Linked DNA regions of Homo sapiens. The protein of the gene in region 1 purifies or fractionates together with the protein of each later gene. This does not show direct contact. Each region holds a gene or a part of one and is shown in the gene's direction. Other genes may lie near its edges.

Region 1 (15,644 bases):
ATTTTTCCCACTTCCTCCCAGCCCAGTCACACAGTTTAAAATAATCTTCTGTTGAAGTCAGGTGCGTGTTTCTTCTCTCAGAAAATCGCGCCCATCACTGAGGGTGGACGCCCCGGGGCTGGTGTCTTTGCTCCACGTCTCCTGTTCACCTGAACCCCTAGGAGCAGTTCCTGCAGGAGCAAAGCCCCAGGGCCAGCAGACCCCTCACACTCTGCACTAACCAGGCCTCATGAGATAGCAGTGGTGAAGGGAAATGTCCTTGTGCTCAGAGAGCTGTGAGGATGGGAATAGTGTCTGCTCTTTTCATATTGATCCTTTCCCTTATGACTTTCCTGTCTACCAAGCCCCACAATACAACAATCACAGCCTCAGCTTCCCCGGCCTCCTGCAGGCTGGGCTCCCCTCCGTGTCCTTGGCGTGTATCAACAGGCGCAATCCTCACCTTCACAGCCCCATGTCCGTCTGCTCGGTCCTCCTGAGACTGAACCCCCGACCTAGGGGAGAGTGACCCCACCCTGCCTGTGCCCCCCACTGAAGCTCCTGTCATGGGGAGCTCAAACGTCAGGAGACTCAGTGTCTCCCCACCACACAGTGACTCCTTGGGGACAGTGTCCGGCTCTGCTGTGTTGACCTCATTGTGCAGAAAGGGGGTGCCCACCTCGTGGCTGCTGAGGGAGGGATGAGAGGCTGCCTGTTCACCCCACCTGCACCCCTGTCTCTCATGGCCCCGAGTCCCACTTCTGAGCTACGCAGACATCCACAGCCTGTGACTCAGGGGTCTGGGCAGATGGGAGTTATTTTCACCCTGCAGAAAATATCACCTAAAGGGAAAGGCATTGAGAGGGAGGCAGGAGGTGGGGTGGGCCCTGCATGGGGTGGGAATCTGGGTGAGTCTGTCTCCCGCTCTGGCCTCAGGGACCCAGGAGTGAATGTCGGGTGGTGGACGGTGGATCTCCCAGGGCTGACCCAGCCCTGACAGTGTCTGTGTGTGAAGTTCTTCTTCTAAGGAGGTCACTGTTTTGACCTCACCACCGACTTCCTGTAGGGCCTCTTCTAAGTCTTGAGCCCGCAGTTCCTGAGAGAAGAACCCTGAGGAACAGACGTTCCCTCGCGGCCCTGGCACCTCCAACCCCAGATATGCTGCTGCTGCTGCTGCTGCCCCTGCTCTGGGGGAGGGAGAGGGTGGAAGGACAGAAGAGTAACCGGAAGGATTACTCGCTGACGATGCAGAGTTCCGTGACCGTGCAAGAGGGCATGTGTGTCCATGTGCGCTGCTCCTTCTCCTACCCAGTGGACAGCCAGACTGACTCTGACCCAGTTCATGGCTACTGGTTCCGGGCAGGGAATGATATAAGCTGGAAGGCTCCAGTGGCCACAAACAACCCAGCTTGGGCAGTGCAGGAGGAAACTCGGGACCGATTCCACCTCCTTGGGGACCCACAGACCAAAAATTGCACCCTGAGCATCAGAGATGCCAGAATGAGTGATGCGGGGAGATACTTCTTTCGTATGGAGAAAGGAAATATAAAATGGAATTATAAATATGACCAGCTCTCTGTGAACGTGACAGGTAAGGCACGGGCTCCAAGAGAGGCCAAAGGCAAATGTGATGAGGGCTTTAGGGCACGGCTGAGACGGGACACATGTCCTGGGAGGGGGCCGGGGGTGATGGACTCAGGAGAGGAGCTGGACCAGAGCCTGAGCTTCCCCAGGACCGCACCTTGGATGCCCCTCCTGATCCTGCAGGCCCCTCCCCTCACCAGCCCTGACCCACAGGCCTGACATCCTCATCCTGCCTCTGACGCTGGCATTGTGGCATGTGGGGCCTTATGACTCCTTGTTTTGGGGCCTGTCCTAGGCATGGCCGGGGTTTAGCACCATCCCAGGCCTCTCCCCACCAGATGCCAGAAGCACCCACTCCACCCATGCAGTGAGACAATAACAATTATCTCCACACATTGTTAAACGTCCTGGGGGGTTAAGTCCTCCCCAGTTGAGAGCCTTAGGTCTACACAACCCCGTGACTCTCTCAGGCCAGGCCAGGGAGGAAGCACTTCCTGGCGCAAACCAAGGGCAGCAGAGGCACCTGAGCCTGGACAGGGAGACTCAGCACACGGCCCCTCCATCTCTCATGCCCTGAGGTCCTCGGAGATCCACATTTAGATGCTCAAAAGACAGGAGGGACCTCCACGATGGTCCAGAGGCCGGGAGGGCAGGACCTACGTGTCTGGTGCAGGCCCTGGTGCTCCAGGGAAGCCCGGAGGTAGGAGGTGGGACACGGTCTCTTCTCCTCCCTGGGTGGGTCTCTAGGGTCTCTGAGCTTCAGGGTTTCCTTCACTCTGTGCAGAGGGAACCAGTTCCTATAGCATGTGGGTTTGTAGTTTCTCTTTCGTGCTGGGTTGAGGTCTCCAGCTCCTCTCCAGCCCCTCTCCAGCCCCCTGTGGGTCCCACAGCCCTGCCCCTCCTCTCCCTCCCACTTCTCTGCTCACACAAGGAGCCCAGGAACCCTCTGTCTCAGAGATGCTGCTGCCTCTCTTGTGGGCAAATGAAGAGAGGGACAGTCGGGGCTGGGCTGAGCCTCATTTCCCCACAGCGTCCCAGGCCCCACTGTCAAGATACAGGCTGGAGGTGCTGGAGTTGGTGATGGTGCAGGAGGGCTAGTGCGTCTCTGTGCCCTGCAGTGTCCTTTAACCCTATTACAACTGAACTGACTCTAGCCCTGTCCATGGATGCTGGTTTAAGAAAGGGATCAATATACAATGGAATAATCCAGTGGCCACAAACATCCCAAATGGAAAAGTGCAGGAGACACGGGGCCGATTCCACCTCCTTGGGGACCTGAAGACCAACAACTGCTCCCTGAGCATCAGAGATGCCAGGAAGGGGGATTTGAGGAACTACTACTTCCAGGTGGAGAGAGGACAGATAAGATGGAATTACAAAACGAAGCAGCTCTCTGTGAATGTGACAGATAAGGCACAGGCTCCAGGAGACACCACAGGGAAAGGTCATGGGGGTGGCAGCGAAAGCCTGGGATGGGGCCCCTGCCCTGGGAGAGGGCTGAGGGTGAAGCGAGTTGGGCTCAGGGCAGAAGCTGAACCAGAGCCTGAGCTTCCCCCAGGGCTGTACCATGGATCCTCTGTCCTGATCCTGAGTCCCCCTCTCTTCACCAGCCTTGACCCACAGGCCCAACATCCTTATCCCCGGTACCCTGGAGTCTGGCTGCTTCCAGAATCTGACCTGCTCTGTGCCCTGGGCCTGTGAGCAGGGGACGCCCCCTATGATCTCCTGGATGGGGACCTCTGTGTCCCCCCTGCACCCCTCCACCACCCGCTCCTCAGTGCTCACCCTCATCCCACAGCCCCAGCACCACGGCACCAGCCTCACCTGTCAGGTGACCTTGCCTGGGGCCGGCGTGACCACGAACAGGACCATCCAACTCAATGTGTCCTGTGAGTGCTGAGCCAGGACGCCCTGGTCCCTGATGAGGGGGGGACGTCCCTGAGGGCAGAGGATGGGGTCAGGGCTCGACACTGGGTGCTGGGTCCCAGAATCTGGGCTGGTTGTGGGATCAGGAGGACGCTGGCTCCGCCTTCCCCATTTATGCAGCTCCTGGGGAGACAGGGCCAGTGTCCCCAGCCCTCACAGTGATGCAGGTCTCCATGTCTTTCTGTCCCAGACCCTCCTCAGAACTTGACTGTGACTGTCTTCCAAGGAGAAGGCACAGGTAGGATGGAGCCCCCTCCCTGGGGCTGGGGGAGCAGGGCCTTCAGCTCAGGGCAGGGCCAGGTCCCTCCTCATCCTGGACTCACCCTGGTGATATGAGACTCCCTTGTAGTTGAACCCAGGCCTCCTCCCCATCCTTAGCCTCTGTGGCCACCTGAGCACCTGTCCTCTTCCCCCCACTCCCCTCAGACTCTTGCACACACACCCTCCTCAGCCCTGCAGCCAGGACAGGGGGAAATACATATAGCAGGAGCAGCCTTTGGGCCTCTTATCTTCCATCTCCTGAATATGCCACCTAACTCGTCTTTTTATTTTACCCAATAGTTTTGAGCTACGTTCTTTTGGATACATGCTATAATCACGTGGGCAAAAATTTTAAATTCACAGTAAAATGTGTCCCCAGAATCAACCAGGGTCTGTCCAGGCTGTCCTGAGCCTTGGTTTGTGCACCTGGAAGATCTCAGAGGTGGTTTGATGTCAGCAGTGAGACTGTTTGCACCCTCTTCTAGGGATGTGTGTGATTCCACTGTCTGAATAGTCTCTGATTTTGTGGCATCTCCTAATGGAAGATCATGGCACTAATTTTATCCTACGGCACGAACACTGCAATGAATAATGTTGTATCTACTCCCACAAGGAATATCTAAGTGTATAGGATAAATTCCTAAAAGCACATTTTACCAGTGTCATATGTTCTTTCTGATTTTGAAAGATATGGTGAAGTTGTCCTCAAATAAAGGTGGGCAAGTTTACATTCCCAACAGTGAGCGGTGAACATAAGTATGTCCCTGCACCAGCCTACATCACTCTCTGTTCCATTCCCCAGTCTCATTCTGTATCCTTCCTCCCTGTTTCAATCACTTTGTCTCTTTGAACCTCCAACTTTTTCTCTACAGCATCCACAGCTCTGGGGAACAGCTCATCTCTTTCAGTCCTAGAGGGCCAGTCTCTGCGCTTGGTCTGTGCTGTTGACAGCAATCCCCCTGCCAGGCTGAGCTGGACCTGGAGGAGTCTGACCCTGTACCCCTCACAGCCCTCAAACCCTCTGGTACTGGAGCTGCAAGTGCACCTGGGGGATGAAGGGGAATTCACCTGTCGAGCTCAGAACTCTCTGGGTTCCCAGCACGTTTCCCTGAACCTCTCCCTGCAACAGGAGTACACAGGTGGGTAAGGGAGGGGCTGGAGGAGGAGAACACACCTGCCCCACCCTCATGGGCCACCCACTGCCCCTGAGCTTCAAGGGGGAGCTCAGCTCTGGTCTGTGCTCAGCTGTGAGGCCTGGAACTTCCCTGCAACCCAGGGCACTGCTGTCCTCTTCCTGCCAGGAAAGGTGTGTAAGGCAGGAAGAGGGGAGGAGTGGGTCTTGGAGGGGAGGAGCTGGGGCCTGGACAGGTGTGTTTGGGGAGACACGTGCCTTGCTTTCCAGTGCCTGGACTAGGGTGACACAAGCAAGGCACTCACTTCTGGGCACACGACTAAAAAACAAAAAATAAAACAACTCAGCAAGCAAGTGAAATAATATTGGATGTGATTATCTTTATTAAAAACTAAAAATTATTGCAAAATAATTTGACAGTGAATACAAATCAAAATTTCAAATACAGGCAGGCTGTGCTTACCACTCTCATGCCTCAGTGACCTCAGGAGTTGTCCCTTCCTCCTCCCTCCCATTCTTGCCCTTTGTTTCTGGGAAGGGGGATTAGGGTACCCAAGTTGGGGGCCTTATAGGAAGTGGGAGGAGAAGAGACCCAGTTCTTGGAGTTGGATCACCAAAACAATTCCAATCCATCCTCAGGCAAAATGAGGCCTGTATCAGGAGTGTTGCTGGGGGCGGTCGGGGGAGCTGGAGCCACAGCCCTGGTCTTCCTCTCCTTCTGTGTCATCTTCATTGTGTGAGCACTGACCCTAGGGAGGGAGGGAGAGTCCTGGGGGAGGGCGGACTGGGAGCAGGATCCCTGAAGCCAGAGCTGGAAGGGACTGCATGGGTCAAGAGCTTGGGGCAAGAATGAGCTCACGGGTGCGTGGCAAGAATTTCAAGAGCGCCCTTGTCTGTGGGGCTCCACATCTGTGGTGAACCTTGGGCCCCACCACCCAGGAGGCAGGAGCCTCTGTTTTCAACACTGGGGTCTCTGGGACTGGACCACCCTCCTCCCACCTCAGTTACCCCTCCAGCGCCCCAACAGGAAATACAGGGCAGGGGTTGGTCTGCCCACTGCACCCCGATCTGACCACACTGAAAGGCTCTCTGGTCTCTTCACTCAGAGTGAGGTCCTGCAGGAAGAAATCGGCAAGGCCAGCAGCGGACGTGGGAGACATAGGCATGAAGGATGCAAACACCATCAGGGGCTCAGCCTCTCAGGTGAGTGATATGGGCGTCTCCACACCCAGCATCCAGCTGGGACATCTCCCACAGGATGGCCTCCAGGATTTCTCTGCTTATCATGGCCAAAATTATCTCCTCATCTCCTCCTCCTTCCCACCATCCAGCTTCTCCTGCAGGATTCCCCATCTTGCTGACTGCATGACAGTCCCTCCTACCTACTTTCTCTCGGGCCAGGCATGGAGGAGGAGTTATCTCCTCTCTGTCCTCCCTTTCTTCTCTATAGCTCCACATTCACCAAATCTTGTCCATTTTTCCTCCCTAAGAATGGCTAGCATTGCTCCCACCCCCACCAATCCTAAACTCTCTCAATGCTGAGGCCTGAGGATCTCTGTCTTGGACTTCCTCACCTCCCTGCCTCTTGTGTCCCCTGCCCTGATGGGAGGAATCATTCAGAAGCCATCACTGATCAGTTTCTTTGCATCTGGACAGCTGTTCCCACCCCCAACACTGTCTAGAGCAGAAGCCAGAAAATACTATCTGGAAAGGCCAGATAGGAAATATTTTTGGCTTTCTGGCCTACACAGTCTCATTGCAGCTCCTCAACTCTACTGATGTAGCAGGAAATCAGCCGTAGACCATGTGTAAATGATTAGCTGGCTGTGTGCCAGTAAAACTTTATTTATAAAAACAAGCTGTGGGTAGAATTTGTCCCAAGGGCTCTAGTTTGACAAGCCCTAACCTAGAGAAAAAGCCCAAACTTCATAACTGCAGCCCTGCACATTCTCGTCTCTTAAACATCTACCTCTCTAGCAGGGCTGGAATTAGTGTGAGATGAGTGAGGTCCTGGCCTAGCATGCAAAATTTAAGAAGGTGCCAAAAATCTCAGTAATTGTGATAGTTTTAAAAAAAACTCTTATTTTAGGTTTGGGGGTACATGTGCAGGTTTGTTACATACATAAACTCTGGTCAGAGGGGTTTGTGGTACAGATTATTTTGTCACCCAGGTCCTAAGCCTAGTACCCCACAGTTATTTTTTTCTGTTCCTCTCTCTCCTCCCACCCTCCACCTTCAAGTGGGCCCCAGTGTCTGTTGTTCTCTTCTTTGTGTTCATGAGTTCTCATCATTTAGCTCTCACTGATAAGTGAGAACATGCAGTATTTGGTTTTCTGTTCCTGTGTTCGTTTGCTAAGGATAATGGCCTCCAGCTCCATCCATGTTCCCACAAAAGACATAATCTCATTCTTTTTTATGGCTGCACAGTATTCCATGGTGTATTTGTACCATATTTTCTTTATCCATTCTGTCATGGATGGGCATTTAGGTTAATTTCATATATTTGCTATTGTGAATAGTACTACAATGAACATTTGCTTGTATGTGTCTTTATGGTAGAATGATTTTTATTACTCTGAGTATAAAACCAGTAATGTGATTGCTATGTCAAATGATAGTTCTGCTTTTAGCTCTTCAGGAAATTACCATACTGCTTTCCACAGTGGTTGAACTAATTTACACTCCTGCCGACAGTATAAGTGTTCCCTTTTCTCTGCAGCCTTGCCAGCCTCTGTGATTTTTTTTACTTTTTAAAAGTAGCCATTCTGACTGGTGTGAGATGATATTTCATTGTGGTTCTGATTTGCGTTTCTCTAGTGATCAGCGATAATGAGCTTTTTCTCATATGTCTGTTGGCCAAAAATGTCTGTTCATGTCCTTTGCTCACTTTTTAATGGGGTTGTTTTTCTCTTGTAAATTTGTTTAAGTTCCTTATAGATGCTGGATATTAGACCTTTGCCTAATGCATAGTTTGCAAGTATTTTCTCCCATTCCGGTTGTTTACTCTGTTGATGGTTTATTTTGCTGTGCAGGAGCTCTTAAGTTTAATTAGATCCCATTTGTCAATTTTTGCTTTTGTTGTGATTGCTTTGGCATCTTTGTCAGGAAATCTTTGCCTGTTTATCCAGAACGATATTGCCTACATTGTCTTCCAGAGTTTTTATAGTTTTGAGTTTTACATTTAAGTTTTTAACCCATCTCGAGTTGATTTTTATATGTGGTATAAGGAAGCAGTCCCACTCAATCTTCTGCATGTGGCTAGACAGTTATCCCAGCACCATTTATTGAATCAGGAGTCCTTTCCCCATTGCTTTTTTTTGTCAGCTTTGTTGAAGATCAAATTGTTGTAGGTGTGTGGCTTTATTTCTGGGCTCTCTATTCCGTTCCATTGGTCTATGTGTCTGTTTTTGTACCACTACCATGCTGTTTTGGTTACTGTAGACTTGTAATATAGTTTAAATTTGGGTAACGTGATGCCTCCAGGTTTTCTTTTTGCTTAGGATTGCCTTGGCTATTTGGGCACTTTTTTGGTTTCATATGAATTTTAAAATTGTTTTTTCTAGTTCTGTGAAGAATCTCATTGGTAGTTTGATAGAAATAGCATTGAATGTATAAATTTCTTTGGGCAGTATGGCCATTTTAATGATTTTGATTCTTTTTATCCATGAGCATAGTATGTTTTTCCATTTGTGTCACCTTTGATTTATTTGAGCAGTGTTTTGTAATTCTCATTGTAGAGTTCTTTCACCTCCCTGGTTAGCTGTATTTCTAAAAATTTTATTCTTTTTGTGGCAATTGTGAATGGGATTGTGTTCCTAATGTGACTCTTGGCTTGGTAGTTCCTGATGTATAGAAATACTAGTGATTTTTCTATATTGATTTTGTATCCTGAAACTTTGCTGAAGTTATTTATCATTTAAGAAGCTTTTGGGCTGGGACTACGAGGTTTTCTAGATATAGAATCATGCATCTGCAAAGAGGGATAGTTTAAATTCCTCTCTTCCTATTTGGATGCTCTTTATTTCTTTCTCTTGCCTGATTGCTCTGGCCAGAATTTCCAATACTACGTTAAACAGGAGTGGTGAGAGAGGGCATCCTTGTCTTGTGCTGGCTTTCAAGGGGAATGCTTTCAGCTTTTCCATATTCAATATGATGTTGGCTCTGCGTTCACCATAGATAGCTCTTATTATTTTGAGATATGTTCCTTTAATACCTAGTTTACTGAGAGTTTTTAACACGAAGCGATGCTGAATTTTATCAAAAGCCTTTTCTGCATCTATTGAGATAATCATGTGTTTTTGTCTTTAGTTCTGTTTGTGTGGTGAATCACATTTATTGATTTGTGTATGTTGAACCAACATGAAGCCGACTTGATCATATTGGATTAACCTTCTGATGTGCTGATGGATTCAGTTTGCAAGTATTTTGTTGAGGATTTTTGCATCAATGTTCATCAAGGATATTGGCCCGAAGTTTTCTTCTTTTGTTGTGTCTTCGCCAGATTTTGGTATCAGGATGATACTGGCCTCATAGAATGAGTTAGGGAAGAGTCAGTCTTCCTCCGTATTTGGGAATAGTTTCAGTAGGAACAGAAGGAGGCTCAGATCTGACATTTATTGTGTGATTGAAGAGCCTTCCAGGCAGAGGGAGGAGCAAAGCAAGGCCCAGGCACAGGAAGAGGAAAGGAGAGGAGCCATGGGACATCTGTGTGATTAGACAGAGGGAGGCAGGACTGAGAGCAGGAAATGACTTTGGAGGAGTTGAGCCTATGTGAATTGTGTCTGACTGCACAGGCTACTGTGAGCATTTGGAGAGTTTTGAGCAGAAGGACATGATCAGACGAGATTGGGTCCGTTCAGGGTGGTATAGCTGTAGACCAGAAGAACATGATCAACTTTCATTTTCATGGGATTCCTCTGGCCACTGTGTGCAGAAGAGACCGTGTGTGTGGCAGGGGAAGGAGAGAGCATAGGAGGTAGACAGGAGGCTGGTGAACATCCCAGGCAGAAGGTGGTGTTGGCTGGAACCAAGATAGCAGCAGTGGTAGACATGACTGTCTCCCAGATGAATTCTGCAGTGGAACCTACTGGGATTTGTTAATGAATTGGAATTAGAATGTGAGCCACAGAAAGGGAGCAAGAATTACTTCCAGATTTTTGCCCTGAGCAGTGGGAAGAATGGAGGTGCCAATCATTGAGGCTGAGAAGATTGCAGAAGAAATGGATTTGGGAAAGAAAAGGAGGAGTTCAGATTGAATAGGTTGAGTTTTGTGTGTCTTTGGACAAGAACGCGGGGGTTTGAATTATACCACTGGATCAAAGACTATAGTCAGGAGAAAGGAGTGGGCTGGGGGTACAGATTTGGGAGTCATTAGCCTATTGATGGCATGAAGCCAACACAGTGGATAAGATCACAAGGCAAAGGTAAAGAAGAAAAGAACCCGGGGCTGCTCTGATATTTAAGGTCAGGGAGACCTGAAGCAATTGGCAAAGAGGTTGCCAAGAAGGTGAGGTGGACCCAGAAAAGCATGATGTCCTATAGTTGAGTCAAGAAGGCCTTCTGTGTAGGGAAGGTGAGCAGCTGGGTCCTCTGCTGCTGAAAAGTCCAGGAAGGAGAAGACTGCAAGGTGGACATTTAGACTCAGCCACTTAAGTGGTAGTCACAGTGACCTTGATAGTAGCAGTGCTTAGACTTGGTATGTGTGTGAATATTAATTTGAGTAATCAAGAGAGAATCTGGCAAGCAAAATCACTGACAGTTCCATGGAGCATCTTCTGCACAGGGGAGCAGCAGGGAAGGGCTGCGATGAAGGAGGACCCTCCCAGGCAGCCTCTGTCACTCTCTGCTGTGTGAGTCTGTATTAGTTTCCTGTGGCTGCTGTGACAAATTACCATGCATTTCCTGGCTTCCAACAACACACATGGATTAAAGTTCTGAAGGTCACAACCCCAAAATGGGTGTCACTGGGCCAAAATCAAGGCATTGGCAGGCAGGGCTGGTTCCTTCTGGAGGCTCCAGGGGAGGATGCAATTTCTCACCCTTTCTGGCTTCTAGAGGCACCTGCATTCCTTGGCTCAAGTCCCTTCCTCTGTTTGCAAGGCAAGTAGCCTGGCATCTTCCAATCTCTCTAAGCCCTCCTCCTTTCACTTGTAAGGACTCCTGTCATTCCACTGGGCCCACCCAAATAATCCAGGATAACCTCCCCATGTCAATATCCTTAACCTAGCTCCATCTGTAAAGTCCCTTTAGCAATGTAACGTAACAGATTCACAGGTTTCAGGGGATTAGGGTATGGACATTTTGGGGAGCAGTTATACTTCTTATCAGAGGATATAATTTCTTTGACTGAGTTGTCCTCCCCATACCACCGAACTGTGAGCTTCCTAAGAGCAGGTGCCCCATCCAAATCAAGGCCCTGTAATTCTCTCTCACTTAGCCTCTTCCTGCCCATCTTATAATTCACACATAGATATTCGTTTGTTTGACAGTCATTTTTGCCAAATTCCCTCAATTAAAAAGTGAGTTTCAGGAGGTCAGGGCCAACACCTACTGTGTCCACCACAGTCCATCCAGCACCCGGATCAGGGCTTCACACACAGAGGGCCCCAGCAGGACTCCAGGCTTTGGGGTCAGAAGGAAGGGACTGGATTGGGTCCCGGCATAACAGGGAGTTTGGGTACGCTACTTTCTTCATGGAGTTGTTGCGGGAAGTTAATAAGATTAATAAACACCAAACAAGTTGCTCAATAAGTGTTAAATATTGCAGGAAAGTATAAATGAAGGAGATTTCTATAAAATGAACGTGGGATAGAGGCAGGAACTCATGAAGTTTAATTCTATACAGAGGAATATATCCGAACCAACCAACCGATCAAACAACTTGTGACTCTCCCTGCCTTATCCTATTTCCACTGCTCTGCTCTGACTCTCTTCTCTCTCTCCATTCAGGGTAACCTGACTGAGTCCTGGGCAGATGATAACCCCCGACACCATGGCCTGGCTGCCCACTCCTCAGGGGAGGAAAGAGAGATCCAGTATGCACCCCTCAGCTTTCATAAGGGGGAGCCTCAGGACCTATCAGGACAAGAAGCCACCAACAATGAGTACTCAGAGATCAAGATCCCCAAGTAAGAAAATGCAGAGGCTCGGGCTTGTTTGAGGGTTCACGACCCCTCCAGCAAAGGAGTCTGAGGCTGATTCCAGTAGAATTAGCAGCCCTCAATGCTGTGCAACAAGACATCAGAACTTATTCCTCTTGTCTAACTGAAAATGCATGCCTGATGACCAAACTCTCCCTTTCCCCATCCAATCGGTCCACACTCCCCGCCCTGGCCTCTGGTACCCACCATTCTCCTCTGTACTTCTCTAAGGATGACTACTTTAGATTCCGAATATAGTGAGATTGTAACGTGTTTGTCTCTCTGTGCCTGGCTTATTTCACTCAACATAACATCCTCTAAGTTCATCTGTGTTGTTTCCAATGACAGAGTAATGTACTGAATAATTCAAAATAGCTAAAAGAGAGGAGTTTAAATGTTGTCACCAAAAAAAAAAAAAAAAGATAAAAATTTGAGCTGATGGATGTGCTAATCATGCTGACTTGATCGTTCCATGGTGCATCGAGGTGCGGGAGCCTCACGGGGGCTGCGTTCAGGTCGCTCAGGTACTCAGGGCAGGACTGGAATTTAATCCCTGCCTGATTCTGAGGTCTCTTCTCTCACCCGGCACCCAGCACTGAGTGAAGCAACCACTGACTGGGCACCCCTTAGCCATAAGTTTGCAGCATCTCCGTTGACTCCATGGCCTCTGGTGAAGGAATCCGAGAACCTGGACACACAGGAGCTGAGAAAGGAGGCGCCTGAAATTACAGCCCAGCTCTGCGCATGGCCTGCCCCAGCCTGCATAGCTCTGATCAGCAGATAGAGCTTCCAATGGCCATGCTGCCCATGATTTCATCCCCAGGGCCCTGGTTGGGTCTGCAGACCTCCGCCAGGAGCCCCCATCTCCGGACCTTGGTGTGACTGGGCTGGGTCCCTCTCTTGCTGGTCCCCTCCAGAGGGACCCTGGACCCTTTCCAGCCTCACAGGCCCTATGGAGACCCCAGCCCTTCTCCATCACCTTCTCCTCACCTGCTTGCCCCTCTGGTCTTGTCCTCGGGTCTGAGGACATGCAGCCTGATTTGCCCTATGGGGAGAAATCAGGGAAGAAGTCACATCTCAGGTCCATAAGAAACACGGGAGAGTCCTGGGTAGAGAGGTGAAGGGGCCCAACTTCCTGCCAAGTCCAAGCCCAAGCCCTCCCCATGTGGGACCCTAGGAGGTAGAGGAGATGGTCTGCGGTCTTCACCTCTCCACTGAGAGTCCTCAACATCCTCATACTTTTAAAGATTTCCAAGGGCACAGGAGGCAGACGCCATTGTGTGGGGGAAAGAGGCCGGGTGAAGCTGAGGAAGGAGTTGACACTGTTGGCGCAATTACCAGGGGTAAGTAACAACAATGATGGAGTTAATAATAATAATTTATTTCACACTGTTATGTCATGCCATAAGACGTGCCATCAACTCTGGAAATTAGGTTAGTTATTATTACCCCTGGGGGCAGGGAGAGCAGCTTGTTTATCTTTTGTTATTAGAGGCCCAAGAATCAAGCCAAGAGCTTGGTGAAATTTGTGGGGAGTAGAGATTTGTCATGGTCATGGAGCTATGACAAAATCCCGTCCCATCCCTGCATCTTTCTAATTCCTCATCTTGGAGGGAGCTGAGGGGAACAGTTGAGGCCACAGGCTGTGGGTTCGGCCTGCCCGGGCTTGAATCCCACCTCTTCTGTGGGTTAGCACTGAAGCCTTAAATAAAATACTCAAACTCCATGGGGCTTAGTTTTCTCACCTGTAAAGTGGAGGTGAGGCTAATCACATTCACTTTCTCCATAGAGAGACAGTGAGGGTCAAGCAGGTTAGAATGGTGGTGGGCACATGGTAAGTGCACAGCTAATGTCCACCACTCTTATCCCCCTTATCCCCCTGTGACTCACCCTGACTCTGATCTGAGGACTCCAGAGGATTCATAGAGGAGGCATCTTTGGACCCAGACCTGAGAGGACTGGGAGATTTCACCCAGAGGTTGTGAGCATGTCATGGCAGGGTGGAGGTGGCACTCCTGAGGGTGGGCACTGCCTAGCAGGGCATGGAGGCAGGGAGATGTGCAGAGCATGAGCCTGGACGGGAGCTGCTGCACTCACGGGGGGCCTGGATCCTGACGTCCATGTACATGATCAGCTGTGTCACGGGGTTTTCCACAGTGCATTGGTAAGTGCCCATCTGCTACCAGGCCAGACTCAAGAGATACAACTTTGCATATGAGAAGTTTAGGAAGGAGCTGTTGTGGATCCAGCAGTACTTGAGATCTGGGAAAGAATAGGAGACACACTCCATTTCCACCTGGGAGCCGATCTCAGCCGTCACGATGCCATTGAAGGCATCAGGATTGCCCCTCAGCAGCAGATAGTCAGGCCCATCTGCAGAGACAGGGAAGGAGGCCTGAGGCTGTGTTTCTGACCCTTTGGGGTCCTGGGTACCACCTCATGAGGTCCTCCTCCAGCCAAGAGGTTCCCCACTGTGCACCCTGAGCTGACCCCTAGACCTGCCCCAGGCAAGGCAGCTGTGCCAACAACAATAACCATAATAAGAGCACCTGCCATGATCAGGGACCTACTAGGGGCCAGCCCCATGGTAGCCCTTTACCTCGTAATAAAATCATTGGAGTAAAAGCAAACACATGGGGCCTACTGTGTGCCAGACACTGTTCTAAGCTCTGTGCCTGTCCCCACATTTGTTGAATTCCCAGAACAACTCATGTGATTGGTTCCACTATTGATCCATTTTATAGATGGAAAACAATGAGGCTCGGAGGAGAGGATTAGGACTTCATGACTGCAACTGACACAGAAGGATTGAGCCAGTCTCAGGGCCTGGGGGCAACCGCCCTGAGCAGCTGAAGCCTCTGGATCCTGGGTCTTGGTTCCAAGCCTCTGACCTGTAAACAGCTGTATGGAGATCAGAAATCCTTCACGCTTCAACCCCAGCTTCCACACAATGGGCGCCATAGCCTGTGCATTAGGAAATCTAACACACCACTAAAGTGTTTCCAGAAGGAGATGTAAAGGTGATTTTAGAAGTGTGATTATTTTTTTCAGGTGAAAGATGTGGAAGAGTTTGATAAACTCTGTGAACACACCTGGAACACTGGAAGAATCTAAGTGTTGATGTATTTATAAGCTCAGTAGATTAGATTTCCAAGAGCTGTCCGAGAATTTGTGAGGATCTTGCTGGGTTGTGAACTTGCCCCAGTAGGCAGCTGAAGGGCTATAAAGAAAAAAGAATGTATGGAATGTATAACTGACTCTTTAAATCAAACTCTCTGTTTAAGGGAGCACAGTCTGTTCAATTTCAGTAAAAGAGAGTGACAGTGACTATAGTAAGTTTACAAGAAAAGAAGAAAGAAATCAATGAGTGGAATTTGAAGGGTCAAGGGGTTTGAACACTTAATAAACTGAACATCAATTTAAAAAATAATTGGTTTTAAGTAGTCCCCTATTTACACAAAAGCAGACCTCAGCAAAGGCACACTGACCATTTCTAATCTGAGAAGTGAGGACTGGGGTCCCTATTTCACATTTGAGTGCATCAGTTCTGAGTAGTGAGGGCAGCTCCCAAGTCCACAGAGCTCAAGAGCTGGAGCTGATTCCAACCCAGACCAACCTGGCTG
Region 2 (15,644 bases), on another chromosome or scaffold:
TAAAAATATAATTCTGCATTTTTGCCAGAGTCATCTTCACCCATCCATATGTTTCACCTACTACATCACATAGAATATTACAAGGATAAATATATCGATGATTTACACCCAATTTCGCTCTTCATTTATTGGGAATAAAAACGAGCATAAGCTTGTAATCCCAGCACTTTGGGAAGCCGAGGCAGGAGCCTCGTTTGAACTCAGGAGTTCGAGACCAGCCTGGGCAACATAGCGAATCTCTGTCTACACAAAAAATATGGCCGGGCGCAGTGGCTCACGCCTGTAATCCTAGCACTTTGGGAGGCCGAGGCAGGTGGATCACAAGCTCAGGAGTTTGAGACCATCCTGGCTAACACAGTGAAACCCCGTCTCTACTAAAAATACAAAAGATTAGCCGGGCATGGTGGCATGTGCCTGTAGTCCCAGCTACTTGGGAGGCTGAGGCAGGAGAATCTCTTGAACCCGGGAGGCGGAGGTTGTAGTGAGCTGAGATCGCGCCACTGCACTCCAGCCTGGGCGACAGAGCGAGACTCCATCTCAAAAAAAAAAAAAAAAAAAAAAAATCTGGGCTTGGTGGCGTGTGCCAGTAGTCTCAGCAATTCAGGAGGCTGAGGTGGCAGGCTCACTTGAGCCCAGGACGTCGAGGCTGCAGTGAACCATGATCCCACCTCCTGCCAGTGCACTCCAGCCTGGATGACAGAGCGAGACCCTGTCTCCAAAACAAAACAAAACAAAGAGCTAAATCGGTAATGTTTCCTTTACAAACAACCTGAAACCTTCTCTAATCATTTAGAAATAAGATACAAAAATGACAAAAATAATTCGATATTTTAAACAAAAATGCAATAATTACAAGCATCAGTAATGAACGCAGTTTTTGCTTAGCTTTAATTCTGTAAAGTGTACTTAATTTTAATCTAGAAGTGTAGAAGTATTACATACATCCGAAATCATGTTTTTTTCTTCTACAGTCGAAAGTTTGTATTACATGTAAAATAGGAAAAAAATATTAAAATTTTTCGAAAGCGAAAAGTCTACTCAGCAAGTTTTTGGTATTTATTAATGGTTTTACTTTTGCTAGACACAAAAATGAAATACCGCTAAATTAGCTCACAGAAGAGTTCAGGATTCTATAGACTCAGGAAAAGCCTGTCCTAAAACTGTTTTAATAAAGGCTGAAAATAGACACTATAATACAGTCTTTAATAATATACAATGTGTATTCCTCCTGATGGTGGTCTTGCTTGACATTTTAAGCATAGCCCTATTTTCCTGTGAAGATAGCAGCCAGTTCTGCTTCATGTCATAACAACACTTGATTCATGTAAGCAGCTGCTACCTATGCCATCACAGTACACATAATTGCTAAATGTAGGGTTCAAATAATCGTAAATGGACACTAATATGAAAATCAGACTGTTTTGTTGTAACAGCAAAAGTTTTAGAAACAAATAATTTTAGTATCTACTTAGTACAGTAAGCATGAACATATAGTATACAGCTAGGCACAGCAGTAAATTGTTGGAAACACTAACATTTATTGTTTACGAACATACATGCAGTGTTTACACATTTCTTAAATGTTGTCTTTAATGCTGCTGATAAACGAAAGGATAAAAAGTCCAACAAACCACAATAAATGTCAATGGGTGTTATTAACAACATGAAAGAACTCAGTAGCAACAACCACATTTAAAGCTACAGGACTCGAAAGTTCCGGACTACAAATCCCAGAGTTCCCTAGAGCCCAGGCGGAGCTACCTTCAAACTGATCGCTTTTTCACCCAATGACAGCCAGAGAATCCCTAAACCACATTCAGCCCGGCCTGAAGGGCTGGTTTCTTCGCGTGAAAACAATAAGGTATTACGTAGACTTTCTGAACACGAGTGGTAGTTTCAGGGCCTGAGTCTAACTACTAAATTATTTCTCCCCGCATTAGTCTCCTAGTCATCTTAATAACTCTCTACCCAACTCTGGCTCGGTGGAAACTCGGAACGTCTAAATGCTGAAACTCACGTAAATCAGTACCAGCGGATGCATCCAGTCAGCCACGAGGAAGGCGGAATCCGCCTTATTCTTGCCCTTTATTGGCCACGCATCCCACCAATGGGGCCATTAAACTTCCGCTAACGCAGCGTACGGCGTGGTGGTGTGAGCGTTGTACGTACGCTGGGTCTACGAAGGGGCAGGCGTTCTGCTTTCGTCCAATCGGAAGCTAGCAAGAATTCCCCGGGCCGCTATGCCCCACTTCTTTCGCGTCGCGTTACGGGCCGCCTCTCTGCAGCCGACCAATCCTCTTGATTTTCTTGTGCGCATTACCCAATCAGAGAGGTCGAGGCGGGGTTCCACTTGACCGCTCTAAGCCGCCGCGCAGCCTGCGTTTTCTCCGGTACAGGTTGAGGCTACTAAGGTACATTTTGCTGGGCCAGGCTGGGCGGGTCCCCGGGATGGGCAGCCCTCTCGACGAGCGGCGACGCCGTGGTTGAGTCTAGAAAGCTAGAGTTGCTGGACAGCTATCGCGGGAGCGCGGAGGGAAGTGGGAGGTCTGGACGGAGTGTGCACGTGTTGGCAGTCTCGCTCCGCCGTCGGAGCCACCAGGTCAAACCTGTGCTGGCCCTGGCCAAAGAAACTTCTGCGGGTCAGGCTGCTGTTGCCGGTGCAGTTCCCAGTACTTCCTCTGGGGCGTTTTTCAATAAAAGCCAAACGCCCTTGCTCATTTTCAGGGAAAGACCTGTTTCCTCCTGCTCTTTCCTCTCCACGGATACTCTCCCCACCACTAAAAGGGTTTAGTATAATCCTTTTGTAGGCCAGAAAGCAGATTTTCACTTGGGAAGAGACGACCCGTAGTATGGGATGTGGTATGATACCAGCAACTGGTCTATTATATCATTTAAACCACATGGCTATCTAAAGAGGTAGGTACTGTGAGTGTTCTCATTTTCACGCGAAGCAGTGTTAGACATTACTCATTCTTGTGTTTTCTTTAGCTTGTCTCTGACAAATTGTGGCATTCAGCTTCCATGGATGTAAAATTAAAAGATGGTATAATTTGTAAAATGTTGCTCCTGTTTTCTTTTTTGTTTTTCTTTTTCTTTTTCTTTTTTTTTTTTTTTTTTGAGATGGAGTCTCAGGCTGTCGCGCAGGCTGGAGTGCAGTGGGGCGATCTCGGCTTACTGCAACCTCCGCCCCCCGGGTTCAAGCGATTCTCCAGCCTCAGCCTCCCGAGTAGCCGGGATTATAGGCGCCTGGCACCACGCCCGGCTAATTTTTGTATTTTTAGTAGAGACGGGATTTCACCATACTGGTCAGGCCGGTCTCGAACTCCTGACTTCAGGTGATCCACTCGCCTCTGCCTCCCAAAGTGCTGGGATTACAGGCGTGAGCCACCGTGCCCGGCCGTTTTCTTTATTAATTTGAAATTATTTAAAGTCAATAAAAGCCTGGGCGCGGTGGCTCACGCCAGTAATCCCAGCACTTTGGGAGGCCGAGGCGGGCGGATCACGAGGTCAGGAGTTCGAGACCAGCCTGGTCAACATGGTGAAACCCCCGTCTCTACTACGAATGCAAAAATGTGGCGGGCGCCTGTAGTCCCAGCTACTCGGGAGGCTGAGGCAGGAGAATCGCTTGAACCCGGGAGGCAGAGGTTGCAGTGAGCCAAGATCGTGCTACTGTACTCCAGCCTGGGCGACAGAGTGAGACAACGTCTCAAAAAAGAGAAAAAAAAAAGTCAATAAAACACACCTAGAAGTGAATTAATCGATTGTTACCAAGGTAAAATGATCTAGAGGAAAGACATCGCAGTAGGCACCAGTTACTGACCTTTGACTGGACAAGTCAGCATCAGCTTTTTCACCTGTATAATTGAAATAAATACCAAACTTGACTACTTAGAGTTCTGAGGATTAAATAATTTAATAGATACAAAATATGTTACCGATGAAAGCCACGTGACTGTTTCTGCTTTTCAAATTCTTTCTTGTGGAGCCTGGACTGCACTGCAACCTATGGCCGAGTAAAACAGTGGTAACTTGCAGTCAAGTACCATTTAAGTGAGAAATCCTCTGAAACGTCTATGGACTGCTTATCTCCTTGTTCAGTATTCAGGAATACTTTCCTGTGAATGCAGCTATGTTACTTACCTGGTTTGTATTCTTACCTTAGATTGTTGTAGCTATTGTAAAGCAAAAGTAAGATCAAGCCCATGTAACTACTTTTTGGGTTCTTTTCTCTCACTTTGTAAATACAGGGTGTTTTTCCAGACGGGAGTGCGGTGGCACAGTCTTAGCTCACTGCAGCCTCGAACTTCTGAGCTCAAGTGATCCTCCTGCCTCAGCCTCCCAAGTGGCAGGGATTACACACGAGCCACTGTGCCAAACCCGTGAAGTTTTTGAGTTGTACTTTTGTACTAAAGTCATGACTACTTTTTCTGCAACTGACACTATGAGCTGCAAATACGACTGAAGATGCTACTGCTTTTTTACTTTTTCCCTATGTGCTTTAAAGAACTACATTTTCAGTGATTTCCATGTGTTTAAGATATTTTCATTTACTTGGTAGAAAATACAAGAGAATTTTGATAAATCTGAACTGGAATGGTCTTTATGTTAATTCTGTTCAATATTTTAGGGCAGATTATGTACAGATTATCGCCAAACTGTCAAAAGGGTGTATTTTGTTCATATAGCTACTGTAACAAATTACAACAGATTTAGTGACTTCGAATAACACACATTTATTCTTTCTGCCTTTGTTTCTTTCTTTTTTTTTTTTCCTTTGGTGAAAAGTACACACTTAAGAAAGGGGAGTGCAGATGTACTCAAGAGAGTCACCTCTTCCTTTTTTTTTTTTTTTTTTTTGGTAGAGATGAGGTCTCGCTATGTTGCCCAGGTGGGTCTCAAACTCCTGGGCTCAAGCAGTCCTCCCACCTTGGCCTCCCAAAGTTCTGGCATTACTGGCATGAGCCACCATGCTCAGCCTCATTTATTGTCTTTTAGTTCTGGAGGTCAGAAGTATGAAATCAGTTTCACTGGACTAAAGTCAAAGTGTTGCAGGCCCAATTCCTTCTGGAGGCTGTGAGAAGAAAATCCATTTCCTTACCTTTTTCAGCTTGTAGTGGCTGCCTGTCTTCCTTGGCTTGTGGCTCTTTTCTGCACAGGACATCATGCTATCATCATACCACTTTCTCATCTGTAGTCACATCTCCCTCTGCCTCTCTTATGAGGACATTTGTGATTATATTAAGGACCCCCCCAGATAAACAAGGATACTCTCTCCATCTCAACATACTTTGTAAAGTCCCTTTTGTCATATAATGAAACAGTCATAGATTCCAGGAATTAAGACCTTTGTATCTTTGAGGGCCAGTGTTCAGCCTACCACAGGAAGGTATAAAGAAGAGTAAAACATCCTATCCCATAAAGTCTCACAGGGACTATAAGAGAAAAACAAATTCACAGTAAATGGTTGCTGAGTTAGACTTTCTTATTACTGTGAAAATAACCTAAGTCACCACAGGTTGGAGCTTCGCCAATTTTTCCACTGGAATATCTTTAATAGCAAAGGTAAATGAATATTCCTGTGATATTTGGAAACAAAGCCTGAATTAATGCTTTAGAAGAGTAAAATTTCTTTGAATTCTAATCTTATAATTTAAAATTTTATGTGACTTTTGCATTCAGTTTTATATGTTCATGGTTGATGCTGTTTTGAATTATATTTAAGCATTGCTGTTCTAGAGAAAAGACTGTTTATTCTGTAGTTTCATTATTGTTTTACTTTTAAATTTATTTTTAGAGATAGGGTTCTCACTATGTTGCCTATGGTGGACTCAAACTCTTGGGCTCAACTGATGTTCCCACGTAAGCCTCCTAGCTGGGACTATGGGCATGCAACCCAGTGCCCAGCTAATGTAGCTTCTTGTAATTTTCTTTTTTGGGGGGGCAGTGACTTTTTTTTAAAACTTACTTTTTGGCCAAGAACGGTGGCTCATGCCTGTAATCCCAGCACTTTGGGAGGCCGAGGCGGGTGGATTACCTGAGGTCAGGAGTTTGAGACCAGCCTGGCTAACATGGCAAAACCCTGTCTCTACTAAAAATACAAAAATTAGCCGGGGATGATGGTGCGTGCCTGTAGTCCCAGCTACTGGGGGGCTGAAGCAGGAGGATCACTTGAACCTGGGAGGCGGAGGTTGCAGTGAGCCAAGATCGTGCCACTGCACTCCAGCCTGGGTAACAGAGCGAGGCTGTTTTGAAAAAAAAAAAATTTTTCCGTAAGTTATTGGGGTACAGGTGGTATTTGGTTATATGAGTAAGTTCTTTAGTGATGATTTGTGAGATTTTGGTGCACGTATCACCTGAGTAGTATACACTACACCATATTTGTAGTCTTTTAATCCCTTGCCCCCCCTCCCCCGGCCAAGTCCCCAAAGTCCATTGTATCATTCTTATGCCTTTGTGTCCTCATAGCTTAGCTCCCACATATCAGTGAGAATATATGATGTTTGGTTTTCTATTCCTGAGTTACTTCACTTAGAATAATAGTCTCCAGTCTCATCCAGGTCATGGCAAATGCTGTTAATTCATTTCTTTTTATGGCTGTGTAGTATTCCATTATATATATACACATATATATACACACACATATATATACACACACACACACCCACCACAGTGTCTTTATCCACTTGTTGATTGATGGGCATTTGGATTGGTTCCACGATTATGCAGTTGTGAATTGTGCTGCTATAAACATGCGTGTGCAAGTATCTTTTTCAAATAATGACTTTTCCTCTGGGTAGATAACCCAGTAGTGGGATTGCTGGATCAAATGTTAGTTCTGCTTTTTAATTCTTTAAGGAATCTCCACACTGTTTTCCATAGTGGTTGCACTAGTTTACATTCCCACCAGCAGTGCGGAAGTGTTCCCTGTTTACCACATCCACGCCAGCATCTCTTGTTTTTTTATTCTTCACTTATGGCCATTCTTGCAGGAGTGTGGTGGTATCACATTGTGGTTTCGATTTGCATTTCCCTGATCATTAGTGATGTTGAGCATTTTTTCATAGGTTTGTTGGCCATTTGTATATCTTCTTTTGAGAATTGTCTCTTCATGTCCTTAGCCCACATTGTGATGGGCTTGTTTGTTTTTTTTCTTACTGATTTGAGTTCGTTGTAGATGCTGGATATTAGTCCTTTGTCAGATGTATAGATTGTGAAGATTTTCTCCCACTCTGTTGTTGTCTATTGACTCTGTTGACAATTCCTTTTGCTGTGCAAAAGCTCTTTAGTTTAATTATGTCCCAGCTATTTATCTTTGTTTTTATTGCATTTGCTTTTGGGTTCTTGGTCATGAAATCCTTGCCTAAGCCAATGTCTAGAAGGGTTTTTCCAATGTTGTCTTCTAGAATTGTTAGTTTCAGGTCTTAGGTTTAAGTCCTTAATCCATCTTGAGTTTATTTTTGTATAAGGTGAGAGATGAGGATCCAGTTTCATTTTTCCTCCATGTGGCTAGCCAATTATCCCAGCACCATTTGTTGAAAAGGGTGTCCTTTCCCCACTTTATGTTTTTGTTTGCTTTGTCGAAGATCAGTTGGCTGTAAGTATTTGGGTTTATTTCTGGGTTCTCTATTCTGTTCCATTGGTCTGTGTGCCTATTTTTATACCAGTACCATGCTGTTTTGGTGACTATGGCCTTATGGTATAGTTTGAAATCAGTTAGTGTGATGCCTCCAGATTTGTTATTTTTGCTTAGTCATGCTTTGGCTATGCGGGCTCCTTTTTGGTTCCATATGAATTTTAGGATTGTTTTTTCTAGTTCTGTGAAGAATGATCGTGGTATTTTGATGGGGATTGCATTGAATTTGCACATTGCTTTTGGCAGCATGGTCATTTTCACAATACTGATTCTACCCGTCCATGAACATGGGATGTGTTTCCATTTGTGTTGTCTATGATTTCTTTCAGCAGTGTTTTGTAGTTTTCCTTGTAGAGGTCTTTTGACTCCTTTGTTAGGTATATTCTTTTTTTCTTCTTTCTTTTTTGAGATAGAGCCTTGCTCTGGCTCACTGCAACCTCCACCTCCCGAGTTTGAGCAGTTCTCCTGCCTGAGCCTCCCAAGTAGCTGGGACTACAGGTGTGCACTACCACGCCTGACTGATTTTTTTGTATTTTTGATAGAGATGGGGTTTCACCATGTTGGCCAGGCTGGTCTCGAACTCCTGACCTCAAGTGATCCACCTGCCCCGGCCTTCCAAAGTGCTGGGATTATAGGCTTGAGCCACTACCCAGCCTGTTAGGTATATTCCTAAGTTTTGTTTGTTTGTTTGTTTTTGCAGCTATTGTAAAAGGGGTTGAGTTCTTGATTTGATTCTCTGCTTGGTCGCTGTTGATGTATAGAAGAGCTACTGATTTGTGTACATTAATCTTGTATCCAAAAGTTTTGCTGGATTCTTTTATCAGTTCTAGGAGCTTTCTGGAGGAGTCCTTACAGTTTTCAAGGTAATTGACCATGTCTTCAGCAAACAGTGACAGTTTGACTTCCTCTTTATTGATTTGGATGCCCTTTATTTCTTTCTGTTGTCTAATTCCTCTGGCTAGGACTTCCAGTAGTACATTGAGGAGGAGTGGTGAGAGTGGGCATCCTTGTCTTGTTCCAGTTCTCAGAGGGAATGCTTTCAGCTTTTCCCCATTCAGTATTATGTTGGCTGTGGTTTGTCATAGATGGTTTTTATTACATTAAGGTATGTCCCTTATATGCTGATTTTGCTGAGAGTTTTAATCATAAAGGGATGCTGGATTTTGTCAAATGCTTTTTCTGTATCTATTGAGATGATCATGTGATTTTTGTTGTTAATTCTGTTTATGTGGTACATCACATTTATTGACTTGTGTATGTTAAACCATCCCTGCATTCCTGGTATGAAACCTACTTGATCATGGAGGATTATCTTCTTGATATGTTGTTGGATTCAGTTAGCTAGTATTTTGTTAAGGATCTTAGCATTTATGTTCATCAAGGATATTGGTCTATAGTTTTGTTTTTTGGTTATGTCCTTTCCTGGTTTTGGTATTAGGGTGATGCTGGCTTCATAGAATGAATTAGGGAGAGTTCCTTTGTTATCTTGTGGAATAGTGTCAAAAGGATTGGTACCAATTCTTTGAATGTCTGGTAGAATTCTGCTGTGAATCCATTTTTTTTTTTTTTGGAGACAGAGTGTAGTGGCACAATCTCAGCTCACTGCAACCTCTGCCTCTAGGTTCAAGCGATTCTCCTGCCTCAGCCTTCGAAGTAGCTGGGACTACAGGCACGCACCACCATGCCCAGCTAATTTTTTTTTTTTTTTTTTGAGATGTAGTTTCGCTTTTGTTGCCCAGACTGCAGTGCAATGGTGCGATCTTGGCTCACCGCAACCTCCGCCTCCTGGGTTCAAGCGATTCTCCTGCCTCAGCCTTCCCAAGTAGCTGGGATTATAGGCATGTGCCACCATGCCTGGCTAATTTTGTATTTTTAGTAGAGATGGGGTTTCACCATATTGACCAGGCTGGTCTCAAACTCCTGATCTTAGGTGATCTGCCTGCCTCAGCCTCCGAAAGTGTTGGGATTACAGGCGTGAGCCACTGTGCTCAGCCTTGTTTTTTCTTTAAGCTATCTATTTCCCTGAATATTTCTCCCTTCACTTCTCTTTTTTTTTTTTTGAGAGGGAGTCTCGCTCTGTCGCCCAGGCTGGAGTGCAGTGGCACGATCTTGGCTCTCTGCAACCTCTGCCTCCTGGTTCAAGTAGTTCTCCCTGTCTCATCCCTCAGAGTAGCTGGGATTACAGGCACCCACCACCAGGCCCAGCTAATTTTTGTATTTTTAGTAGAGAAGGGGTTTCACCATGTTGGTCAGGCTGGTAACGAGCTCCTGACATCAGGTGATCCACCCGCCTTGGGCTCCCAAAGTGCTGGGATTACAAGTGTGAGCCACCACACCTGGCCAGTTTTTGTGTTTTTAGTAGAGACAGGGTTTCGCCATGTTGGCCAAGCTGGTCTCGAACTCCTGGACTGAAGTGATACACCTGCCTCGGCCTCCCAAAGTGTTGGGTTTATAGGTGTGAGCCACTGTGCCCGGCCTGAAATTTAAGTAATTATTAATATGGTAAACATCTTTCTATTTGGAGATTGGAATTATGTCCTGATGATTTTTTACAGTTCTCGTAATTTTAATTTTTGGACCTCCTGCTAGATGGCAGTAGTAATCAATGCCAAGGGCCAGGAAGGAAACTTTTAAAACGGTTTGATAGCTTAAGTCTAATTCTTATGTTTAGTGAAGTTGCAACTGACCGTACATGATTTTCAGTTCTTTTTATCCTTCACATCTGATCTACAAAGCACATGTGAACTTTTTATCCTCTTAATATCCGTTTTTTTCTGGATAGTTCAATAATTATGCCTTTTGTTTGTTATTTCTCTGATATCAGGGTCTTTTACTGTGTTCAGTAGAGAGGAAATGAGTTTAGAACTTAGTAGATTCTGATCTTCCCTCATTATAACACCAAAGTGGTTAAAAGAACTAGTTCTGCTATATCTTTACATGAATATTATACAAGCTATAAATATTTACATTTAGGGATGTGTTTTGATTTCTATTTCAACGTAGTCCTTTTGAATGGTCTCCTAATTTGGAAAATTAAATAGTGAATCAACCTCAAAATGCAAAACAAAGTCTGTAGCTGTCAATAAATATTTATAAAATATTGCTTTATTGTCTGAGAGATATGTTTACATGATTATAAACTATCCAGTGTCAGGAAAAGCCTCATTCTGGCTTAATCTTATTTCATCTACCAATTAACAGTGGAAATTTTAAAAATCATTAATATGTTAAAGTGTCTTTCTGCTTGATGAATTAGGGTAGCATTTTTAGGGGAACATTTGTATTGTGAATTCACCTTAGAAGCATCTAGTCTATATACATACATAAATATATATATATACTTACACACATATTTATACATAAAAGGGGTGGAAATCCTGTCAAATACTAGTTTATTCTGCAGGTTATCATTTGACATTACATATTGCATTTCTTTAACATTCTCTATACTCCCACCTAGTGGTATATGAGTGCTGCTTTTGTGCCAGGCACCATTTAACATGGTAATTAATTTATGAAACCCTATGGCATTGATATTGCTATCTCCTGTTTAAACTACAGGAAACTGAAACATATAGTTAGTAAAGCCAGGATTTGTGCTCTGGCAGTCTGACTCTATACCCATTCTCAGCTATCATGCAATACCTGTCTCAGCTTCCTCATCTAAAACACTGTAATAAAAGGACTATCTTTTAGGATTATTGGGAGGGTTCATTGAAGCAATTCATGTGCAGAGGCTGACATGGTAACCGAGAATGGTAATGATCAGTTAATATTAGCTGTCATTTGGCTACTTTTCTGGTTTTCTTCCCATTCTTTTTTCATTTTTCTCTATTATAGGGTGCTTGGCCTGCTGCTTGCCATCATTCTGTATAATTCATCTGCTATCATTCTGTATAATTCATCTGTATAATTCATCCAGTTTCCTAGTTTGGGTTTTTGTTTGTTTGAGACGGAGTCTTGCTCTATCATCCATGCTGGAGTGCAGTGGTGTGATCACGGCTCACTGCAACCTCCACCTCCCGGGTTCAATTGATTCTCGTGCCTTAGCCTCCCTAGTAGCTGAGACTACAGGTTTGCGCCACCATGCCTGGCTAATTTTTGTATTTTTTTAAGTAGAGACGGGTTTCACCATGTTGGCCAGGCTGGTCTTGAACTCCTGGCCTCAGATGATCCATCCACCTCAGCCTCCCAAGGTGCTGGGATAAGGGGCAGGAGCCATCACGCCCGGCCTACTTTCCTAGTTTTTAAGTGCTGCTACTTCCTATAGTCTGATAACAGAATCCCGTACTTTCCCTCTGAGTTGTAGACTGATGTATACAAATGTTTGTCCTTGGCCATCCCCAGAAGTCCCTCAGGCTTATATGAGTAAAACTAAGGGCATTTCTTTGTTTTTTTTCCCCCCATTTTCTTGATTTTTGGATTTACTTTTTTTTGTTTTTAGTTTTTTTTTTGTTTGTTTGTTTTTTTGAGGCAGAGTCTCCCTCTGTTGCTCAGGCTGGAGTGCAGTGGTGCACTGTCGGCTCACTGCAGCCTTCACCTCCCAGGTTCAAGCAATTCTCCTGTCTTAGCCTCCCAAGTAGCTGGGATTACAGGCGTGTCCCATCACGCCCGGCTAATTTTTCTGTTTTTAGTAGAGACGGGTTTTCGCCAGGTTGGCCAGGCTGGTCTCAAACTCCTGGCCTCAGGTGATCTGCCTGCCTAGGCCTCCCAAAGTGCTGGGATTACAGGCGTGAACCACCGCACCTGGCCTGGATTTACTTTCTGACTCAACTCCGCTTGGTCATCCAATGCAAGAATCAGCCTGGATTCCTTCTGCACCTGTTCCTCCCCCGTGCTTCCAAATCGAGTCAGTGCCAAGCTTCACTAATGTTAACTTGCTGAATATTTCTCTGGCCAGGTGTGGTGGCTCACATTTGTAATCCCAGGTACAAGAGACTGGGAGGTTGAGGCAAGAGAATCACTTGAGCTCAGGAGTTCAGGAACAGCCTGAGCAACATAGCAAGACCTCATCTCTACTAAAAATTAAAAAAAAATTTTTTTTTTTAATTGGCCAGGCGTGGTTGTGTGCACCTGTATTTTCAGCTACTTGGAAGGCTGAGGTGGCACGATTGCTTGAGCCTGGGAGATTGAGCCTGCAGTGAGTGGCAGTTGCACCACTGCACTCCAGCCTGGGCCACAGAGTTAAGACTCTGTGCAAATAAATAAATAAATAGTCAAACTATAATACAGTATTCACAGTGAATAGAAGCAAAAAGAAAGAAAAGAAAAATATTTCTCAAATTCGCCTTTTTTCTCCATTCCTACTGTTGGGAACTCCATTATCTCTTTTAGTTTGATTTTTAGTTGACACATAATGTACATATTTCTGGGATATAGTGTGATGTTTTGATATACGTATACTTCGTGTAATGATCAAATCAAGTTAATTAGTGTCTCCGTCATCTCACATGTTGATCACTTTGTGGTGAGAACATGCAACAGTCCTCTCCTATCTATTTTGAAATAGACAGTACAGGCTGGGCCCAGTGGTTCCCACCTATAATCCCAGCACTTGGGAGGCTAAGGCCAGAGGATTTTTTAAGACCAGGTCTGGCAACATAGTGAGACCTTGTGTCTACAAAAAAAATATTAAAAAATTAGCTGGGGCATGGTGGCATCACCTGTAGTCCCAGGTACTCAGGAGGCTGGGGTGGGAGGATTGAGACTGCAATGAGCTGTGTTTGTGCCACTACACTGCATCCTGGACAACAGTGCAAGACTGTGTCTCACAAAAAAAAAAAAAAAGGACAATACATTTAAAAATATGGAATACTTCATGAATTTTCATGTCATCCGTGTGCAAGGGCCATGCTCATCTCTGTGGCCTTCTGATTTTAGTATGTGTGCTGCCAAAGCAAGCACTCCGTATCCTTGTCTGGACTTTTTTTTTTTTTTGTGAGACAGAGTCTCGCCCTGTCGGCCAGGCTGGAGTGCAATGACACAATCTTGGCTCACTGCAACCTCCACCTCCTGGGCTCAAGCAATTCTCCTGCCTCAGCGTCCCGAGTAGTTGGGATTACAGGCGTGGGCCACCATCCCGGCTAATTTTTGTAATTTTTAGTAGAGACGGGGTTTCACCATGTTGGCCAGGCTGGTCTCGAACTCCTGACCTCAGGTGATCCTCCCGCCTTGGCCTCCCAAAGTGCTGTGATTACAGGCGTGAGCTACCGCGCCCAGCCCCTTGTCTGGACTTTTTAATGGCCTCTATGGTCTCCCAACCTTCAGCCTTACCTCTCCCTATTTAAATCCATCTTCTACATTGTAAATGTGAGCAATTTAATATGTGACTCTGGGTTGGGTGCAGTGGCTCACGCCTGTAATCCCAGCACTTTGGGAGGCCGAGGCAGGTGGACCACCTGATGTCAGGAGTTCGAGACCAGCCTGGCCAACATGGGGAAACCCCGTCTCTACCAAAAATACAAAAATTAGCCGGGCATGGTGGCATATGCCTATAGTCCCAGCTACTTGGGAGGTTGAGACAGGAAAATCGCTTGAACCTGGGAGGCAGCAGTTGCAGTGAGCCAAGATCACGCCATTGCACTCCAGCCTGGGTGACAAGGCGAGACTCCATCTCAAGAAAAAAAAATGTGTTTATGACTCTGAATATGTAATATTTTTGCTACCGACCCCTTCCAATTCATTTATTTATTCAAATAGTTTAACGTAGCTGCTGTAGGTAAAAATAAGATACTGCTTTAGTCATTCCCTGTAACACACTGAATGTTCTAACTCCTTTCTTACCGAATTGGTTCTGTGAGAAGAAATAAAAAAAATAAAGTTTGACGTTTTAGTTGGGTATACAAGATAGACAACTCTAAGACCTGCCCTGCTGCTTGCTTCAATGTCGTCTCCTTTCCCATCCAACATCACACATTATGATCAGCAATACTAAACTTTCTCTTCTTCCCTTGCTTCCAGTACTTTTCATGCTTGTCTGTCCTCATAGTCAGCATATGAAAATGTTCAGTGACCAGACATGAGTAACAGACATTGTGGACTGTGGAAGATCCTGAACGCTAAGTCAAGAAAGTAAACTGTTCCTGAGGGAGAAAGGAAGAACCACTGATTGTCAGACTTTGCTATCATTCATGGAAATTGGGAGCATGGGTTGAAGAGAGAAACTAATGAAGTAAATTTTGGATAATCTGAATTTTAAGTTCTGGCAGCACATGTAGCAAGCATTTAAGAATACAAGAGCTTCAGAAAGAGAATAAAGAGATGAAGTTTGGAGTTAAAGATCTGGAAGTGATTATACTAAAGACTTGATCTGGTATATGCAAAATTAATATTTGAAAATGGAAAGGGACAAATGTTCTGCTTAAATCCACTAATGCTTTGAGGGCAGAATCAAGTTCTAGTTATCACTGTCCCTCTAGCACCTAGAAGAGTGCCTAACACTGATGTTTAATTATTAAACATTCTACTAAGCTTGGGTTGCAGTGGGATTCAAGGAGAAGGCAACCCAAGAAAGTGATGAAGGGAAGAACATTTTAGGACATCACCAGGGATGGAGAGTTGGTATTTCAAACTTTGACTAATAAGAGTTTGTGTAAAGTCCTTACTACAGGCAAACATCGTTTTTTGTTTTTTGTTTTTTTTTTGAGACAGGGTCTCACATTGTCACCCAGGCTGCTGGAGTATAGGTGCCCCCAGACTCAAGCAATCCTCCCACCTTAGCCTCCCAAGTTGCTGGGACCACAGGCATGCACGTCACCATGCCTGGCTAATTTTTTGTACTTTTGATAGGGATAGGGTTTCACCATGTTGCCCAGGCTGGTCTCAAACTCCTAGGCTGAGGCAGTCCTGCCTTGGCCTCCCAAAGTGTTGGGATCACAGGCGTGAGCCACCGCACCCGGCCAGTGGCCTTTATTATTATTTTTTTCTTTTTCTTAAGGTTGACATCAAATTGCTAGGATCACAGCTACTTCTCCAGAGATTTGCATTGCTCACTTTTTAAATTAGGTTGTCT

What was found.
Region 2: the proteins of SIGLEC7 (region 1) and WDR89 purify together in Homo sapiens (affinity purification with mass spectrometry; 2 studies listed by BioGRID and IntAct, with this or other methods). This does not show direct contact.

Annotation. Positions count from the first base shown.
Region 1 is NC_000019.10:51,141,233-51,156,876, forward strand, and holds SIGLEC7 (sialic acid-binding Ig-like lectin 7 isoform 1 precursor), read left to right. Parts: upstream 1-1,068; 5' UTR 1,069-1,137; coding exon 1,138-1,570; intron 1,571-3,173; coding exon 3,174-3,452; intron 3,453-3,679; coding exon 3,680-3,727; intron 3,728-4,622; coding exon 4,623-4,889; intron 4,890-5,521; coding exon 5,522-5,618; intron 5,619-5,988; coding exon 5,989-6,085; intron 6,086-11,690; exon of another isoform or gene 11,691-11,830; coding exon 11,831-12,013; 3' UTR 12,014-12,294; downstream 12,295-15,644. UniProt on the Homo sapiens protein: Putative adhesion molecule that mediates sialic-acid dependent binding to cells. Preferentially binds to alpha-2,3- and alpha-2,6-linked sialic acid.
Region 2 is NC_000014.9:63,628,571-63,644,214, reverse strand, and holds the start of WDR89 (WD repeat-containing protein 89), read left to right. Parts: upstream 1-2,343; 5' UTR 2,344-2,411; exon of another isoform or gene 2,412-2,916; intron 2,917-14,593; exon of another isoform or gene 14,594-14,945; intron 14,946-15,644.